4 linked regions of the Homo sapiens genome follow. The protein of the gene in region 1 interacts with the protein of each later gene in a pairwise test. Each region holds a gene or a part of one and is shown in the gene's direction. Other genes may lie near its edges.

Region 1 (3,346 bases):
ACATTATTAGAATTGTTATGATTATAATACAATGCTATGTCCCAGGTCTTGCTGATAGTGCTACAGTGCCCTGTGAATGTAGTGTGCTCATTGTGCAGATTAAAAACCTAAGGCACTGAAGGGTGAAGTGATTTATCTGAAGTTATTTTATAAGCAGTGATCAGACAAGATGAGCTCACAGAACTCCTGGCCCCTACTGCTGAGGTTTCCATACAGAGTCAAGTAATTTCTCACCTTGTAAAACGAATTGATTCATTAACCAGGGGAGAGCTCTACTGCATGATGTGGCTGTGTGTCTACAGCAAGCACCCTATGACTCTAAGTCACTCGGACATATTGATGTGGCAAAGCCCAAATATTGTTCACTTCCCTGAGGAAAACTCAGTGCTAGATCAAACAGAGGTGTGGAATAAATCTTTATGATTTGATTCTCTGGGCCTGGGCCATGAGACCCATGATGCCTCAGAGACATCGGACTTCCAGTCAAGTGTATATGGAGAAAGCCAAGCCTGGGATGTACTGCTTTTTGCAGAGCATGGGTTTTTCCCTTATTTAGTTATGATTTTATTTCTACCCTTCCTCATTCCCAAAGGGATTTGAGGAGGGAGTGCTTTCTTTTCTACTCTCATTCACATTCTCTCTTCTGTTCCCTACAGCTCACCTTCATGATTGCTGCCACTTACAACTTTGCCGTCCTTAAACTCATGGGCCGAGGCACCAAGTTCTGATCCCCCGTAGAAATCCCCCTTTCTCTAATAGCGAGGCTCTAACCACACAGCCTACAATGCTGCGTCTCCCATCTTAACTCTTTGCCTTTGCCACCAACTGGCCCTCTTCTTACTTGATGAGTGTAACAAGAAAGGAGAGTCTTGCAGTGATTAAGGTCTCTCTTTGGACTCTCCCCTCTTATGTACCTCTTTTAGTCATTTTGCTTCATAGCTGGTTCCTGCTAGAAATGGGAAATGCCTAAGAAGATGACTTCCCAACTGCAAGTCACAAAGGAATGGAGGCTCTAATTGAATTTTCAAGCATCTCCTGAGGATCAGAAAGTAATTTCTTCTCAAAGGGTACTTCCACTGATGGAAACAAAGTGGAAGGAAAGATGCTCAGGTACAGAGAAGGAATGTCTTTGGTCCTCTTGCCATCTATAGGGGCCAAATATATTCTCTTTGGTGTACAAAATGGAATTCATTCTGGTCTCTCTATTACCACTGAAGATAGAAGAAAAAAGAATGTCAGAAAAACAATAAGAGCGTTTGCCCAAATCTGCCTATTGCAGCTGGGAGAAGGGGGTCAAAGCAAGGATCTTTCACCCACAGAAAGAGAGCACTGACCCCGATGGCGATGGACTACTGAAGCCCTAACTCAGCCAACCTTACTTACAGCATAAGGGAGCGTAGAATCTGTGTAGACGAAGGGGGCATCTGGCCTTACACCTCGTTAGGGAAGAGAAACAGGGTGTTGTCAGCATCTTCTCACTCCCTTCTCCTTGATAACAGCTACCATGACAACCCTGTGGTTTCCAAGGAGCTGAGAATAGAAGGAAACTAGCTTACATGAGAACAGACTGGCCTGAGGAGCAGCAGTTGCTGGTGGCTAATGGTGTAACCTGAGATGGCCCTCTGGTAGACACAGGATAGATAACTCTTTGGATAGCATGTCTTTTTTTCTGTTAATTAGTTGTGTACTCTGGCCTCTGTCATATCTTCACAATGGTGCTCATTTCATGGGGTATTATCCATTCAGTCATCGTAGGTGATTTGAAGGTCTTGATTTGTTTTAGAATGATGCACATTTCATGTATTCCAGTTTGTTTATTACTTATTTGGGGTTGCATCAGAAATGTCTGGAGAATAATTCTTTGATTATGACTGTTTTTTAAACTAGGAAAATTGGACATTAAGCATCACAAATGATATTAAAAATTGGCTAGTTGAATCTATTGGGATTTTCTACAAGTATTCTGCCTTTGCAGAAACAGATTTGGTGAATTTGAATCTCAATTTGAGTAATCTGATCGTTCTTTCTAGCTAATGGAAAATGATTTTACTTAGCAATGTTATCTTGGTGTGTTAAGAGTTAGGTTTAACATAAAGGTTATTTTCTCCTGATATAGATCACATAACAGAATGCACCAGTCATCAGCTATTCAGTTGGTAAGCTTCCAGGAAAAAGGACAGGCAGAAAGAGTTTGAGACCTGAATAGCTCCCAGATTTCAGTCTTTTCCTGTTTTTGTTAACTTTGGGTTAAAAAAAAAAAAAGTCTGATTGGTTTTAATTGAAGGAAAGATTTGTACTACAGTTCTTTTGTTGTAAAGAGTTGTGTTGTTCTTTTCCCCCAAAGTGGTTTCAGCAATATTTAAGGAGATGTAAGAGCTTTACAAAAAGACACTTGATACTTGTTTTCAAACCAGTATACAAGATAAGCTTCCAGGCTGCATAGAAGGAGGAGAGGGAAAATGTTTTGTAAGAAACCAATCAAGATAAAGGACAGTGAAGTAATCCGTACCTTGTGTTTTGTTTTGATTTAATAACATAACAAATAACCAACCCTTCCCTGAAAACCTCACATGCATACATACACATATATACACACACAAAGAGAGTTAATCAACTGAAAGTGTTTCCTTCATTTCTGATATAGAATTGCAATTTTAACACACATAAAGGATAAACTTTTAGAAACTTATCTTACAAAGTGTATTTTATAAAATTAAAGAAAATAAAATTAAGAATGTTCTCAATCAAACATCGTGTCCTTTGAGTGAATTGTTCTATTTGACTTCACAATAGAAACTTAATAATCGTACCTTGTTCAAGGAGATCATTCATTTTTCAGCTCATCCAAGTCATTCTCATAACATTTCTCTGAAATAAATAGTATATGAATAGATTACTTCTACTTTTATAGTTGAAGACACTAAGAAATAGAAGCAAAGTAATTTGCCCAAAGAAATCCAGTAAGTACATGTCTGAGCTTGTGTTAAAACGCAGATATTGAAACCAATTTATTGCCTACTTAAAGGTTTCTTTTCTCTTCGAAGTTGGGTTTCAGAATGTTCAGAGTCAACTATGGTTACTTTTTCAATACCTTAGTGGTGCCCCAGTCCCCGGTGCATTTAGATTTAAGTTATTGTTACCTTCTCTTTAAATTGTTTGGATATTCCAGTAATGATCCCTTAGTAATTCATACGTGACTAATATTTAGTTTTATTTGGATAGTACTGGATGGAAGGTTTAGTACTTAAAGGACAGAGCAGGTATGGAAAGGGCAACGTAAATGTAAACAGGCTGTGGCAGGGCAGTACTAAAATAAATTAGTGACACCTACCACCCTGGATGGCCA
Region 2 (3,330 bases), on another chromosome or scaffold:
AGGAAGAGGAAACAGATGGGAGGTCAGAGGAGGGAAGATTAAGGAGTGAGTTTCAAGAAGGAGGGATATAGCAGGGAGGATGAGCTAGACGTTGAGGGCCTTGAGGGGAGGAAGCTGGTGTGGGGAGGGTTAGGGAAAGAGGAAGTAGAGACAGGGAGAGTGAAAGCTCCTCCCCGGACACGTGCAGGCTGAGGAGGAGAGAACGGGGTGGTCACTAAAGGCGGGTGGGCAGCAGCAATGCAAGGTCTGGAGAGCCATGTGTCTGCTTTTCCAAGGCCACAGAAGCCACTGGAGAAAAAGGAGTGGAAAGAGAGCTGGGGTTGATGGATAAAGCCACAGTGAGAGGAGGCAATGAATGAGCCCCTTGGAGGGAAGGCAGTGGGTTTTAGGCCCAGGACCTGGGCTGGGTGGAGAGGAAGACACATCCCAGCAGGCAGATGGCTTTGGAGCAGGCTGGTTTGCAGAGCTGGCGCACTGCGCAGTTCCAGGGACCTCTGTTCACACAGACTATGAGGTCATGGCTGCAGAGCCGGAGGGGCAGCAGATCCCAGGGCCAGGCAGACCTGGGTTCGCATCCTCCCTTCAGGGAGGACAATTTCCCTGAGTGCCTGGAACTTCAGCTGCCTCCTCTGGGAAGCGGGGCTAAAGAAACCTCATTCCCTAGAGTTTCTCTAAGATTTTAACCACTCTACTTAGGTCTATGGGCCTTGGATAATGCCTAACAAATGATGGGTGTCCAACAAATGTTTGTTTTCCTTCTCTGAAGGGCAAATTAGGATCTAGAATGGGGAAGAGACTTATTCCAGGTCTCACAGAAAGTAAGTGGTGGACTGGCCGGGTGCGGTAACTCACTCCGGTAATCTCAGCACTTTGGGAGGCCAAGGTGGGAGGATCACTTGAGGCCCAGGAGTTCAAGATCAGCCTGGCCAACATGGTGAAACCCCGTCTCTACTAAAAATACAAAAAGTAGCCAGGTATGGTGGCACACACCTGTAGTCCCAGCTACTCGGGAGGCTGAGGCAGGAGAGTCGCTTGAGCTCGGGAGGCGGAGATTGCAGGGAGTCAAGATCCTGCCATTGCACTCCAGCCTGGGCGACAGAGCAAGACTCTGTCTCAAAAAAAAAAAAAAGGGAGATAGAGCAAGTAAGTGGTGGAGGTTAGAACACAGCTCCCAGATGCCCAAACTCAGTACCCTCTGCTAGGAAGAGGTGACTTTTCTGAGTATTTCCTGAACACAGTTTCAATCACTTCCCCTGTATTACCTCATTTAAACCTCTCATTTACATGAGGTTGGTCCTAGTATCCCTATTTTACAGAAGAGCACACTGAGGCTCAGAAAGTTTAAAGCAAAGTGTGTGGCTTACCTGAGGTCACACATCCGGGAAGTGTCAGAGCTGGGACTCAGATCCAGGGCCTGCGTCCTTAACCACTAGGCCATGAATGTGGCCAGGATGTTGAGGGAATCTTGGGCACACCGCTCATCCTACACTCCCTCTCCAGTGCCCTCCCGAAGCCTCCTATTCTACGATGACGGGGCAGGCTTATGGGAAGATGGCCGCAGCACCCTGCTGCCCATGGAGCCCCCAGATGGCTGGGAAATCAACCCCGGGGGGCCGGCAGAGCAGCGGCCCCGGGACCACCTGCAGCATGATCACCTGGACAGCACCCACGAGACCACCAAGTACCTGAGTGAGGCCTGGCCTAAAGACGGTGGAAACGGCACCAGCCCCGACTTCTCCCACTCCAAGGAGTGGTTCCACGACAGGTGGGGTGTGTGGCCCCTTTCCCTCCTGAGGTCTCAGGCTCCACCTGCCTCCTGCCCACCCTTGGTCCCCACATTGGCCACACCCTCCCAAGGCCCCATCCCTACTTGGTCTAGATCCAGCTTGCAGAGGGTAAGAGGGTTCCTGCTGGACAGTCATCGCTGGCCTCTCTTCTCTCTCCAGGGATCTGGGCCCCAACACCACCATCAAACTCTCCTAGGCCATGCCAAGACCCAGGACATAGGACGGACCCCTGGTACCCAGAAGAGGAGTTCTTGCTCACTAACCCGGATCCGCCTCGTGCCCCTGCCTCCTGGAGCTTCCCATTCCAGGAGAAAAGGCTCCACTTCCCAGCCCTTCCTTGCCCCTGACATTTGGACTCTTCCCTTGGGCCGACCACTCTGTTCTCATTCTCCTTCCCACCAACATCCATCCGTCCTTCTCAGACAAACCACTCACTGGGTACCCCACCTCCTCTCTCATATGCCCAACACGACCACTGCCTCCCTGCCCCCACACCTGCACCCAAACAGACACATCAACGCACCCCACTCACAGACACCCCTTACCCCACCCCCACTGTACAGAGACCAAGAACAGAAATTGTTTGTAAATAATGAACCTTATTTTTTATTATTGCCAATCCCCTAAGATATTGTATTTTACAAATCTCCCTCTTCCCTTCGCCCCTCCCTTGTTTTATATTTTATGAAGTTAGTGCGGGCTTTGCTGCTCCCTGGCCCAGGAAAGAGGGACTACCTGACCCTCACCTGGCACCCCCCTGCTGCTGCCCAAGCCGCTGGGCCTTTTTAATTGCCAAACTGCTCTCTTCATCAGCTCAGCACATGCTTTAAGAAAGCAAAACCAAAAAAAAAAAAAAAAAGATGCAGCATCAACTCCTGACTTTGTGCCTTTCTTCATTGGAGGGGAGGGAAAGTAGAACCAAAGGGCAGGGGAACAACAAGGGTAGGTTGATTTTATGTTCTGGCAGGGGGTGTGGGGGTATAGGAGTATGAGAAGGCATTTTTTTTTTTTTGTAGAGGTAGGGTCTCGCTATGTTGCCCAGGCTGGTCTCAGACTCCTGGGCTCAGTCTGCCCACCATGGCCTCCCACAGTGCTGGGATTACAGGCGTGAGCCACCATGCCCAGCCTGTTCACTTTTTATTTTCCAATATTTTGTTGACTGATTTGTTATTTCCTCTTCTGTCTTTGGGCTTTATTTATAGCTTTTATATGTGTATGCTTTTATTTGAGGATTAGGAAGATAGTTTAGATAAATGTTTTTTATCTGCCTATTTAAGGAGAACCCCATGTATGTATGTATGTGTACATGAATGAATGACAAGATCTCGCTCTATTGCCCAAGTTGGAGTCCAGTGGTGCAATCATAACTCACTGTGGTTTCAAAATCCTGGGCTTAAGCAATCTTCCACCTCAGCCTCCCAAAGTGCTGGGATTACAGGCGTCAGCCACTGCACCTGGCCAAGAAGGCATTTCTATTGGGCTTTCTCTTCTAGCCAGGTGCAGAATTCAAACCAAACAGCCAAAGAATCTGCTGCAATTCACT
Region 3 (3,232 bases), on another chromosome or scaffold:
ATTGGTTTTCTGGAGTCTGGGGCATCTGGGATCCTTCAGGCTAAGGGTCCAGGGCCAGAGGTCTGACCCCTTATAACAGGACGGTGATGGCCAGGCGCAGTGGCTCATGCCTGTAATCCCAGCACTTTGGGAGGCCAAGGCGGGCGGATCACTTGAGGTCAGGAGTTTGAGACCAGCCTGGCCAACATGGCGAAACCCCATCTCTACTGAAAATACAAAAATTAGCCGAGCATGGTGGCACACACCTGTAATCCCAGCTACTCAGGAGGCTGAGGCAGGAGAATCGCTTGAATCCGGGAGGCGGAGGTTGCCGTGAGTCAAGATCGCACCATTGCACTGCAGCCTGGGTGACAGAGCGACTCCATGTAAAAAAAACAACAACCAAAAAACAGGATTGTGAGGCCTAGAGAGAGTTCAGTGGAAGGGCCTGGGGTTCCTACTGGACAGTTGGAAATCTGGGGAGCTGAGTTTCCCAGAAGCTGGGGGACCAGCTGGCTGGGTTTTGGGGAGAGAAGGTGGAGGTAGATGGACTCAGTATGCAGGAGTGTGGAGGGGGAGGCTCAAACTAGCTTTTTTGGGTTGCAGTACTCCAGTCCTAAATCTCAGGTGGGAGTTAGACTGAGAGTGAAGGTTGCTAATCTCCAAGGTGGGGGGTAGGGAGAGGAGGAGGCCGCTAAGAGTTTAGGCTCCTTGTCAGAAGGGAGGGGAGATCTCTTGGTTTTCCACGGCTGGGATCTCTATGAGAAGATATCCTTTATCGGGAGGTCGGAGCTCTTATTAGATGTGGGTCCCTGAGAGTGGAAGCCTGGGGAGGTTGGGCCGTTTAGAGGCTGCAAATGTCTAGGTCACTGTTCGATGGAAGAAGGAAGTTTGCTCACAGGGTCTGGGGTGCAGAGCTCTGAATACTGAAAGAAAAGGAAGTTGAGAGATGGGGTTTTCAGAGCCTGTGGAAGACAAGCGTTTTGTTCTGACACTTGGGTTGTGGCAGGAGGCAGAAGGAGGATGCTTTATTTTTTATTTATTTTATTTATTTTTATTATTTTATTTTATTTTTTGAGATGGAGTTTCACTCATGTCACCCGGGCTGGAGTGCAGTGGCGCAATCTCGGCTCACTGCAACCTCCACCTCTAGGGTTCAAGCGATTCTCCTGCCTCAGCCTCCCAAGTAGCTGCGATTACAAGCGCCCACCACCACACCCAGCTGATTTTTGTATTTTTAGTAGAGACGGGGTTTCACCATGTTGGTCAGGCTGGTCTTGAACTTCTGACCTCAAGTGATCTGCCAGCCTCGGCTTCCGAAAGTGCTGGGATTACAGGCATGAGCCACTGCGCCCAGATTATTTTATTTTTTTTGAGGCGGAGTGTGGCTCTGTGGCTCAGGCTGGAGTGCAGGGGTTCTATCTTGGCTCACTGCAACCTCTGCCTCCTGGGTTCAAGTGATTCTCCTGCCTCAGTCTCCCGAGTAGCTGGGATTGCAGGTGCATGCCACCACGCCCAGATAATTTTTGTATTATTAGTAGAGACCGAGTGTCGCCACGTTGGCCAGGCTGGTCTCCAACTCCTGACCTCAAGTGATCCACCCACCTTGGCCTCCGAAGTGCTGGGATTACAAGTGTGAGCCACCACACCCGGCCTATTTGTAATTAAAAAAAATTTTTTTTTTTTGAGTCAGGGTCTCACTCTGTCTCCCAGGCTGGAGTGCACTGGTGCATCACAGCTCACTGCAGCCCTGACCCCACAGGCTCAAGCAATCCTCCCACCTCAGCATCCCGAGTAGCTGGGACCACACGCACACACCACCACACCCAGCTAATTAAAAAATTTTTTTTTGGTAAATGAGGTCTCCCTAAGGTTGCCCAGGCTGGTCTCCAACTCCTGGGCTCAAGCAATCCTCCTGCCTCAGCCTCTTGGAGTGCTGGGATTACAGGCATCAGCCACACCTGTGCCTGGCCAGAGGGGTGGTGCTATAGAGTACAGAGTGCTAAATGGCTGAGCTACTGAGTCCCTTGGGGAGGGAGGGAAAGAGGGAAGCACGGTATCTGGAGTGGGAAGCAAACAGTGTAGTTGTACAGTAGTTAGGTCTTGAAAGAGAGAAGAATCTCTTGAGAAGGAGGAAAATAGGGGCCTAGACTCCTGGATTCTGATACGAGTAGGGGAGGAGTGAGCCTTGAACCGGAGGGGACAGGCTCATCCCTGTATGCCCAGGACTGTCCCCATTTGAAAACCCAAGGCTGGGCCCGGTGGCTCACGCCTATAATCCCAGCACTTTGGGAGGCCAAGGCCAGCGGATCATGAGGTCAGGAGATCGAGACCATCCTGGCTAACACAGTGAAACCCCGTCTCTACTAAAAATACAAAAAAATTAGCCGGGCGTGGTGGCACATGCCTGTAATCTCAGCTACTCGGGAGGCTGAGGCAGGAGAATCACTTGAACCTGAGTAGCAGAGGTTGTAGTGAGCTGAGATTGTGCCAATGCACTCCAGCCTGGGCCACAGAGCAAGACTCTGTCTCAAAAAAAAAAAAAGAAAAGAAAACCGAAAGCCCCACATCTTGGGAACTCCCTAATTAGAGCTCATATTAATTTGTCCCTGGGGTAGGCAATGGCTAAGGGACCTGGATTCTTATGTTTGTGACTGTATAAGGACACTGTCTTTCCCCTTTTTGCAGCCATGCCAGTGACGGTAACCCGCACCACCATCACAACCACCACGACGTCATCTTCGGGCCTGGGGTCCCCCATGATCGTGGGGTCCCCTCGGGCCCTGACACAGCCCCTGGGTCTCCTTCGCCTGCTGCAGCTGGTGTCTACCTGCGTGGCCTTCTCGCTGGTGGCTAGCGTGGGCGCCTGGACGGGGTCCATGGGCAACTGGTCCATGTTCACCTGGTGCTTCTGCTTCTCCGTGACCCTGATCATCCTCATCGTGGAGCTGTGCGGGCTCCAGGCCCGCTTCCCCCTGTCTTGGCGCAACTTCCCCATCACCTTCGCCTGCTATGCGGCCCTCTTCTGCCTCTCGGCCTCCATCATCTACCCCACCACCTATGTCCAGTTCCTGTCCCACGGCCGTTCGCGGGACCACGCCATCGCCGCCACCTTCTTCTCCTGCATCGCGTGTGTGGCTTACGCCACCGAAGTGGCCTGGACCCGGGCCCGGCCCGGCGAGATCACTGGCTATATGGCCACCGTACCCGGGCTGCTGAAGGTGCTGGAGACCTTCGTTGCCTGCATCATCTT
Region 4 (3,706 bases), on another chromosome or scaffold:
GGTGACAGAGCGAGACTCCGTCTCAAAAAAAAGAAAAAAAAAGAAAGAAACTCATGGATAATCCTCCCTCTCGTGCAGTTCGCCTCTACGGACCAAACTTCATCCTTCAGGTGTACTCATCTCAGAGGAAGTCCTGGCACCCTGTGTGCCAAGACGACTGGAACGAGAACTACGGGCGGGCGGCCTGCAGGGACATGGGCTATAAGTGAGTATGGGGCAGCACCCGCCGAGTGACAGTAACAGACAGCAGAAACACGAGAAGACCCTCTCTCTGCCTCCCTGTGAAAGCACCGGCACATGAGTGCTGGGGACAATTGTCACCTTCCAAAAGCTGAGCCCTATAACCAGCAGGTGGAATTTGTCCTGCTAGGGCTGTGCCCAGCACACAGACCTTGGCTCACTGCCACCTTGCCCTGCCTCCTCCTTGGCCTCTATAGACTCCTGGTTGCTCGGGAGTGCCCAGTGCTGTGGTCATCTGGTCAGAGGGGTAGGCTGAGGGCGTTAGGTGCCTCTTTTTCCAAGGTGCCTCTCAGCCAGGGTCCATTCACCTCCCTGGGTAGAGGTTGGACCAGAACAGCTGGCGAGGAGGGTTGGGCTGGGGAGAGCAGCAGAGACAAATCCTGTGCCAGTTTCACTTCATTCGGGAGCCATGGAAGCCTTTTGAGCTGGGGAGAGAATCAATCAATCAGACTGATACTTAAAAAATGTCATTCCTGCTCGTAGCTCTGAGGGAAGGTGGGAAGGCTTAACAGGGTGTGTGTCGCCTGACAGTGATTCCTAACGGGGGTGGGGCGGTGGTTACCATTTACCAGCACTGCCTGGGGAGATGCGGCAGCCCTCAGGCATCGGGGGAGAGGGTGGTAGGATGCTACTGCCACTTTGTTTTCCATGGGAGGGTCCCCAGGTGATTTCTATGCAACTTTAGGGTATTCAATATGCCAGTTTTCAGAATGAATTACCACTCGGTGAGAAAGTTGGCATCTTAGCTAGTCACTGTGACATCCCTAAACAGCAGGGGTGAATTACACAGCAAAGCCCCCCCATCACAGTCCAGGAACCTGGTGGAATTGATAACTGGGGCCATGTTAACATCTGTACCTTTTATTAGATTAAATGTGTGTATGATTATACAATCCTATGTCCTTCTCATAGTTTCTTGATCCTAACCTGGATAAGAAACACGACCAATGAAGGAATTTTGTCTGACACTTTAGGGTTATTGAATCGAAAAATCGTTACAATATTCTAGCACTTGGTTAGAACGTGTGATTTTTTTTCCTAAATGCTAAGGTTTTTCCCTCTTATTCTGAATGTCGTATGAGCGGTATTATGACATAGTATAGGATTTGTGTTTGCTTATGCCTTAACCATTATCACAAATAAGGTTTTCTTTTTTAGGAATAATTTTTACTCTAGCCAAGGAATAGTGGATGACAGCGGATCCACCAGCTTTATGAAACTGAACACAAGTGCCGGCAATGTCGATATCTATAAAAAACTGTACCACAGGTATGCAGCAATTTCTTCTTGAAAAATTTTGGAATGAAATCAACTAGGAGACACCATGGGGAATCGTTGTCCTGAGTCTGATTTCTCTGAGCTGCAATACTCGGTCTGGATGGGTTTTGCATTGGGAGGAGATTAGAGTCTGACCAGGCCTGGTTACTCTAAGCAGCCCTTGGTTTATTCATAGGAAGTGGCTGAGGTTTCTCTGCTATTTCATTTTCAGCCTCTACCGTCTGCCCTTGTTGGTAGCGGCTCACACTTGCAACATCGACATTCAACTCTATTTAGTTTTCTTTCCTCTTCAGACATTTAGAGGTGTACCTATTTTGTCAGGGCGTGGTTCTAGGAATCCAAGATAATGTCTCAGTGTCCCAGCCAGGGTGACCGGCTCATTCCAGTTTGCCAGGGACTTCACTGGCTTGAGCAAGGGAAGTCCTGCTCCATTCCAGGCAGCTGGGCTGGCTGGTCCCGTTAGCCCCAACCCCGGGACAGCAGTGCCAGAGGGTGCTCTGTGAGGGATGGGCAGCATTCTGGCGGCCTGGGAATGAGTTGTGGTGTTTCCAGGGGGTAGAAGTGGGTACAAGCCACAGGTCACATGATGAGTGGCTGACCTGGCTGGGAGGGCAGAAGAGGGGATGGACTTAGGCTCTTCCTTTTGCTTTGCACATATTTAGGATGTTTGCAGACTTGCTATGATTGTTGCTGTTATGTGTTTTCTGATGTGAAAGATACACAGTGTCCTTTGCCCATGAGCTCTCCTTGCCTCCCAGGTCCCCAGGGCTTATGCCTGGTGTCTAGGCATCACCTCCCTGCCTGCCAGGTGCCAGGTGCTGCATTTCGGGGGAGGATGAACTAATCACCCCGCGCCACCTTTCCTCTGAGTGGGAGCCTGGGGCAGGTTTGCATTCCTGGAGGCCGCTGGTGGAGGGGTCTGGGGGCCTGACTTCCACTGCAGCCTGCTGTCCTGGGGAATGTGGCAGGGCAAGCCCAGTGGGGAGGGCTGTGCACGGCCAGGTGCACCCATCAAAACAGCAGGGCTGCGGTTTGTCCCTGTGGAGAAGCTAAACACAGCTGCCTGGGCACTTTGTAAATGCTGAGTGGTTCTTTGTCTTTCTGGGTTACACACGGAATCAGGGAGCCAAGTCCAGCCGGGCAGGGACGGGGGGAGGGGAGGAGGTGCTGCCGTCCCTTGGCAAGAGCCTTGGGAACTCACAAGGAGGCTGGAGGGCTTGGAAGAAAGAAGAGAAGGCCATTGTCTGGTAGGCTCTATTCTATCTCGGTGGTGGTGGTGGGGGGAGGCGCACTTCTTTTCCTCTTTCTGTGCAGCAGTTGCCCTTTGATGCCTGAGTTCTTGGCTTGTTTTCTGTCGGGCTTCTGTGAATAACCACATGTGCCCTGGCGCTGTGACCACACAGGGCTATCCCTACCGACCTTAGGATTCTTAGGAAATGTCTTCTCTTAAAGGGGACATGTCTTCACTTGGCCGTGTCAGTGCCCCAGAGCCAGAGTCCACCTGGAATGCACCTGTAGTCACTGAGAACCCGGGGGGTGTGCCTTAGTAAGAAGGTGTCAGGAAGGACCTATTATTGTAGGGCCTGGGCTCCTGCAAGGTGGTTTGGGGGTGGTTGGAGGAAGCAGAGATTTGCTCTGGATTGGATGCTGTCAGGAAGCAGGGGTAATTCTGTGAGGCTGCTTTATTATTTTTTTTCTAGGAGGAGGTTGGAATGAGGCTAGGCTAAAGCTGTGATTGGTAAAGAAACGTCCGTCGCTCAAGTTAGCCAGGACAGGAGGAGACATCAGATCGTGATTTTGTGGTTGTGAGCACAAGGTTCCTGTTCTGTCTGTTCAGACATCATTTCGGAGGAGGCTCCTTGTGTCTTGCCCCATCTCAGGCATGGAGGGGCCTAGTCCGATATTGACGCTCAGTGAAATAATTCAGGTTCCGCAGAGCACACGGCCCAGCTATCAGGGCGGGCCAGCTCTGCATGCCAGGGGCCGCGTCTTCCCTTCTCAGCATAGCCTGGGAAATTCACTGCAGGACAAAATGCATCAGTTACTTCCTCTTCATCCATAACCTGGGATGTTTGACTCCCAAATGAGTAACTCTTACGTTTCTTCTAATCCTAGGGAAACTATTGGTTATATTGCTTTCAACACTACAAATTTAAAGCAGTTATAGGAGCCCAGAGGTTTCCAAATG

Evidence for each region.
Region 2: the proteins of PLP1 (region 1) and CREB3L1 interact in binary tests that used the Homo sapiens proteins (3 or more experiments, as listed by UniProt).
Region 3: the proteins of PLP1 (region 1) and MYADM interact in binary tests that used the Homo sapiens proteins (3 or more experiments, as listed by UniProt).
Region 4: the proteins of PLP1 (region 1) and TMPRSS2 interact in binary tests that used the Homo sapiens proteins (3 or more experiments, as listed by UniProt).

The regions. Positions count from the first base shown.
Region 1 is NC_000023.11:103,789,871-103,793,216, forward strand, and holds the end of PLP1 (myelin proteolipid protein), read left to right. Parts: intron 1-656; coding exon 657-728; 3' UTR 729-2,749; downstream 2,750-3,346.
Region 2 is NC_000011.10:46,318,764-46,322,093, forward strand, and holds the end of CREB3L1 (cyclic AMP-responsive element-binding protein 3-like protein 1), read left to right. Parts: intron 1-1,500; coding exon 1,501-1,765; intron 1,766-1,946; coding exon 1,947-1,983; coding exon of another isoform or gene 1,984-2,134; 3' UTR 2,135-2,646; downstream 2,647-3,330.
Region 3 is NC_000019.10:53,870,861-53,874,092, forward strand, and holds part of MYADM (myeloid-associated differentiation marker), read left to right. Parts: intron 1-2,667; 5' UTR 2,668-2,669; coding exon 2,670-3,232.
Region 4 is NC_000021.9:41,476,975-41,480,680, reverse strand, and holds part of TMPRSS2 (transmembrane protease serine 2), read left to right. Parts: intron 1-78; coding exon 79-205; intron 206-1,398; coding exon 1,399-1,509; intron 1,510-3,706. UniProt on the Homo sapiens protein: Plasma membrane-anchored serine protease that cleaves at arginine residues. Participates in proteolytic cascades of relevance for the normal physiologic function of the prostate.